Linked DNA regions of Homo sapiens: region 2 is linked to region 1. The links come from fine-mapping of genetic effects on gene expression. A gene starts in region 1. The other region holds a variant in brackets. All regions are shown on one strand. Distances are from middle to middle.

What was found. PIP is the estimated chance that this variant, and not a neighbour inherited with it, causes the effect.
Region 2: its variant is fine-mapped to the expression of C16orf95 in gastroesophageal junction (GTEx, PIP 0.96).

Annotation. Positions count from the first base shown.
Region 1 is chr16:87,316,104-87,318,982 of GRCh38, forward strand. C16orf95 (chromosome 16 open reading frame 95) reads right to left here and starts at 1,289. Exons shown (of 7, transcript NM_001195124.3): 1 at 988-1,289. The coding sequence starts at 1,139. It overlaps C16orf95-DT (C16orf95 divergent transcript), which reads left to right and starts at 1,406. Exons shown (of 2, transcript NR_135180.1): 1 at 1,406-1,619; 2 at 1,754-1,940. RefSeq lists an enhancer at 867-1,316.
Region 2 is chr16:87,289,779-87,292,687 of GRCh38, forward strand. It overlaps LOC101928682 (a long non-coding RNA gene), which reads right to left and starts at 2,674. Exons shown (of 5, transcript NR_104667.1): 1 at 2,590-2,674; 2 at 1,906-1,959; 3 at 941-1,019. The variant C/T (reference allele first, on the strand shown) is at 1,198.

The DNA of each region.
Region 1 (2,879 bases):
TGTGCTTGGAGCATCAGAAAAGACAGGAGCATTCCAACCTGCTGAGAACTTTCCAAGACATGTAGCTGCCAATCACATCACCTAGGATGATCTGTCAGACACCCTCAACTTACTGAAATACTGAAGAAAAAACATCGTCAAACTGTCCATTAATGAACCTCCTTCCACTATAAAAACCCGGGTGCTTTGTCTCTGGGATGACAAAGCACTTGGGGTTACACAGCCTGTGTGGCTCTTCCCTGTTCCACTCCCCAACAAACTGCTTGAATGTTGGCTGGATGAAGCGTCTCCAGTGGGTGCAAAGCCCTGCTTCCCTGACAGTAGTGGGTCAAAGTGCTTTGTATGTGGAAACCGTAAGAGCGATATAAGTGTTTTTGGGTTTCATTGTCATAATAACCATTATTATTATTGCTATTTTTGTGAGAGTAATAGGTTCACGCATCAACTCTCCCAGATAATGCTTGAAAACAGAGGATGGGGCACTGCCCTCCACAGCATCCGAGGCCCCTTCTGGTAATGACAGCACTGCTATATTCCTGGTGGGGAGGGGGGGGGCCACAGCCATCTCAGTCCTTGTAGTTCAGGTGGGCCAAACTCACCACTGCCCAGCCTGGAAAGCTGGGAAAAAAAAGAATCTCCTTTTTGTTGAGGTTGATAATCTGATAACATGTAAACCTCAGGAGGTCCTGGTGATCATCTTGCCTCCACAAGGGAAGCCAGCAAAAAGGAAGGAAGCTGAGAGATGGAGAGAAACCTTCCAGGACCATGGTCAATGTGTACCTGGATACATCCATGCCTGAAGGCCTACTTCTGACATTTTCAGTTATGTGGAACCATCAGTTGCGTTTTTGTTAAGCCAATGTAAGTGAGGTTCCTGTGGGTGGCGGTCAAGAGTTCTGCCTGTGCATAGGTCATGGAGCAATGCCGGGCCGGGAACTCACAGGCGAGGTGTCGGGTAGCCGCGGGCAGGATTCAGGACTCACTTGCCTGCCATCCTGCGCGCTGGGTGTGAGTGCCAACCTGCAGAGCCCGACGCACCCCGCGCCCGGCCCCCCGGCAGCAGCGCCTGAGGCTGCTCCAGTGGCCTCATGATGATGGTGACAACGCCGCGGGGACGGTGGGGACCGGCTCGCACGCATATGGCTTCTTATGGCTGACGCGCCCTTTCACACACACATCGTCCGCAGGCCCTGACGCCCTGGCTCCCGCCTTTCCCTCCTGCCCCAGGAGGAACCCAACCCGAGCTCAACCCCAGCCCCAACCTCAACCGCTCAGAGGAGCCCAACAACGCCCGCGCGCCCGCCCGTCCCGCTGACTAGCCCGCGCCCAGCCAATCAAAATTGGCCTTCTAGGTATGTGACCTTAGCTGGCAGCTGATTGGTCCCTCACGAGAGACGCGGGGTCAGCGGCTCAGAGCGCGGCTGTGTGGGGCTGCGGGGCTCCCGCCATGCCCGCTGGGGTAGGTCCTGCGGACCCCGGCCACTGGAGCCACTCATCATTTCCGACGGATGGGCCGGAGGGGCCGCCGGCCGCCCCAGCCAGGGTCTCGGTAGCCTGCAAGGAGAGAAAGAGGTGGGAGCAGCCCGCGCGGGGCCCTGCGTCTTGCATAGGCGCTTCTGGTAAAATCACTCCTTTATCTCAGATAATGAGTTGGCGCTGGATCGCTGCGTCCTCAGGTGGGGCTCGAATCGTGACTTTTAGAGAAATAGGTTTTCTTTCTTTTTTTTTTTTTTTAACAACATGGGGTTTAAAGGGCGCGGAATTGGAAGCAGTCGTCACCCGGAGGCCTGGGCGTGCAAGCACCGAAGCTCTGGCTGGCCCTGAGCCTCCCCACCCCACCCGCTCTTTTCGCTGGAACGCGTGTACTTTGGGCAGTTGCTGACGTGGAGACAGGACGTATGTCTTCATATTTTAGTAAAACCCAATGCCCTCTGCCTCTCTGATTATGTTCTTTAAGTTATCGCCAGTTCCAATTTGTATTTCTTGGAAACGGTTGGGTCTTCCCTCACTTTTCAGTATTTTCATGTAGACTCAAATACTCTGGATTAATATTTGTATTTGCCCAAACCATCACGAGCACCTCTTACCCTGATGGGCAATACTTCAGTGTGCTGCGTTCTGGCCACAGAGCAAACAGGGTGCTCCCAGGCACTGCCCTCTCGGATTTCTTGCCTTGTTATTTAATCATTAAGATCGTGACCTATGAGCAGGACTGTTTCCAGCCAGCACATACACATGTCCTCTCCTGGCCAGCATCCATGCTGATTAGACGGTGCCCCTGCCATACTAGCTGCCTAATATTTCAGATACCCCACCCCGTGTGTGTGTGTAAATCATGTCACTGCCCTCTTTGTAGCTAATGACAAAATTCCAAGAGTCACCATTAGCCTAGCACATTATGCCTGTCTCATTTCTGCCCACTTTGGAGCACTCGGCTTCTCTGCTGTTTTCCTCCAGAGCACACTGAAACACTGCCATAGCACAGCAGGGCATAGAAGACAGGCTCATGCTCCCCTGGACGCTCAGGCCTTCACCTCGGGCACACTAGGTCTTGTCATTCCATGTCAAGAATAGCTCTTCACTGCCCTCACCCACCCAAGAATGGCTAAAATTAAAAGGACTGACAATACCTAGTTTGTCGAGGATGTCACAGCTGGAACCCTCATACATGGCTCATGAAATTGATAAAACCACATTGGCAAACTGGTAGTATTTACAAAACCTAAACATATGAATACCTGATGACCAACTAATTCCTCAACTCACCCAAGAGAAATGAGAGCTTATGTGTACCAGAAGACATGAACAAAACTACCCACAGCAGCTTTCTTCCTGATGGCCCCAAACTGGAAATGATCCAGATGTCCATCCATAGGAAA
Region 2 (2,909 bases), 26 kb before region 1:
GCCTGCACACGTCCTCAGAAAGTCCCTGATGGAACCGGGTCCCAACTGCCTGCCAGGACGAGCGACAGTCCTGGCTTCAGTTGATTCTCCTCGTGCCACTTCCCCAAAGGGAGCATTTTACTGGATGAAACCAACTTGAGGAACTTATGAAATTTAGTAATTTACCAAAAATGTGCTTATTTTAGCTCGTTATAATGTATACAGTAATTTATATTGGATGGGATGGTTTTGATAGATTTTGAAGATTTCTGCAAAGCTCTAAGTAACTGGGTTTTTTGGGGGGTGGGGCTTATTTTTGAGACAGGGTCTCACTTTGTCACCCAAGCCTGAGTGCAGTGGCGCAATCACGGCTCACTGCAGCCTTGACCTCCTGGGTTCAAGAGATCTTCCTCGGCCTCCTGAGTAGCTGGGACTACAGGCGTGTGCCATCATGCCTGGCTAATTTTTTAATTTTTATAGAACGGGGTCTCACTATGTTGCCCAGGTTGGTCTCAAACTTCCAGGCTCAAGTTATCTGCCCTCCTTGGCCTCCCAAAGTGCTGGGATTGCAGGCATGAGCCACTGCACCTGGCCCCTAAGTGACTGATTCTCATTTTGTCTTCACAATAGCATTTCCTCAGCAAAAGGCGAAAGACATACAGGAGACTTGGCACACACAGTGGCCTGGGCTGCTGACGCTTGGAGGGGCAGTGGGAGACAAAGTGAGGTGGTATGAGGAGGAGGGTGTGCTGCGCCCACCCCCCCTCCCCCCGCAATCCTCTTGCCCTAACAACCCTGCCAGGTTGAACACCCCGCTCTGGGCGCTGCCGGCTTTAGGCATCACCTCCAATTCCTGATGGCTCTGGGGCTTCTATAGCCTTCTCTATAAAGAGGGACTGCACCATCTGCCCTCAGGGGTAATAACGAGGGCAAAGTAAGACACCATATGTTTAGCTCTTACTGCAGCAGGAGTTTGGTCCGCATGGGATGCTTTTATTGTTACTGTTGCCACAGATCTTGTCTGAGGAGCTCCTGCAATCCTGAGGAAACAGGTGGAAGGTGTAAGATTCCCCTCGGCTGGAGACCTGCTCATTTTTCAAGATCTTTCCTGAGCACCATCTCTGCCCCAGCACTGGGCTGAGCACTGGGCACATGCGGAGCCCCAACACTGCCCCCAAAGGCTTCCGGCCTGGACCCTGAAGGAAGACAGGCTGGGAG[C/T]ACGGGACAGCACCAGGGAGCAGCCTCTCCAGGAAGAGGAGCCCAAACGGGCAGAAATGGGGCGGGAAGGGCTCTCTTGGCAGAGAGGGTCAGATGACTGAGAACTTTACACACCAAGAGGGAAAATCTATTCTTGCATTCAGTGAAAGCACTCCTTTTGTGAACTGGAAAGTTGTTTTTTTCTTTTTTTTTGAGATGGGGTCTCACACTGTCCCCCAGGCTGCAATGCAGTGACATGATCTTGGCTCACTACAACCTCCGCCTCCCAGGTTCAAGCAATTCTACTGCCTCAGCCTCCCAAGTAGCTGGGATTACAGGCACCCGCCACCACGGCCAGCTAATTTTTGTATTTTTAGTAGAAACGAGGTTTCGTCATGTTGGCCAGGCTGGTCTCGAACTCCTGACCTCAAATGATCCACCTTCCTTGGCCTCCCAAAGTGTTGGGATTACAGACATGAGCTACCACACTCAGCCAACTTTTTCTTTAAAACCCCAAATTTTAATTAGCACCCCTGACACAGATCATTACCCCTTTAAGTAGCTAGTTTCTGAACTCCTGCCTCCTGCAGAGATTCTCTCAGGCATGCAGGTGCCCTGCCCTCCCCATGGTCTACCTCCATGAAGTTGCACTCAGTCCTACTCTGGCCCCAAACCCCTTTGAACAAAACCCATGGAATGGTGTGGCTGTCTGAGCCTCGGTCTCCTCACCTGTCAAATGTAAGAGTGAATCAATGTCATGCATGTAGGATGTCTGTGGAACACCTGGCAGGGAGAAAACAGTGAATAGTAACTATCGTTACTGCTGGTGCTCAAAAAATATCAGTCATTTGCTTGAGTCCAGGAGTTTGAGGCTGCCGTGAGCTATGACTGAATCACTGCAGTTAAGCCTAAGCGACAGAGGGAAATCCCATCTCTTCAAAAGAAAAAAAAAAGCCCTATTTTCTTCACGTTTTCCATCACAGAAAAGCAAAACATTCAGATCTAGTAATTAATACTTCAGCAAAGAAGGCTCATGAGCCCATTTCTTTTAAGCATCTTCTTAACATTTCTGAGCCTGTCAGTAATCACTTTCCCATGTACTGGGTGGTACTGAGTAATTATCTCCAGCTCTCCCCAGGTCCAAGGTATTCTGCTGCAGAAACGTGACGTGTATGAGTTAGCTAGTGCTGTGTAACAAATTATACTGAGACTCAGCAGTTTCAAACAACCACCGTTGAACATCTCTCACAGTTTTTGAGAGTTGGGAATCCAGGAGCAGCTCATCTGGGTGGTTCTGGCTCAGTCTTGCTAGTTAAGTGGATGTCCAGGGCTGCAATCCAGGATTGCATGACGGGGCCTAAAGGATCCGCTGCCGAGCTCACTCATGTGGCTGCTGAGATTTCAGCTCCTTACCATGTGGCATGGTCACAAGGCTGATGGTGATGTAGCAGCTGGTTTCCCCAGAGCAAAGGGTCCAAGAGAAAGGAGAGAGGAGAGAGAGAGGGAAAGAAACCAAGAGGGAAGCAACAGGACCTTTTATGACCTAATCTTGGAAGTACTGTGGCATCACTTCTGCAGATTCTATTGGTCACACAGACCTATGTGATATAATGTAGGAGGGGCTACACAAGCACGTGAATTCCAGGGTGTGGGACTGCTGGGGGCTATCCTGGAGGCTGGCTACCACGACATGTCTGAGATCAGTTCCCAAGGACACCATCCCATCTGGGAAC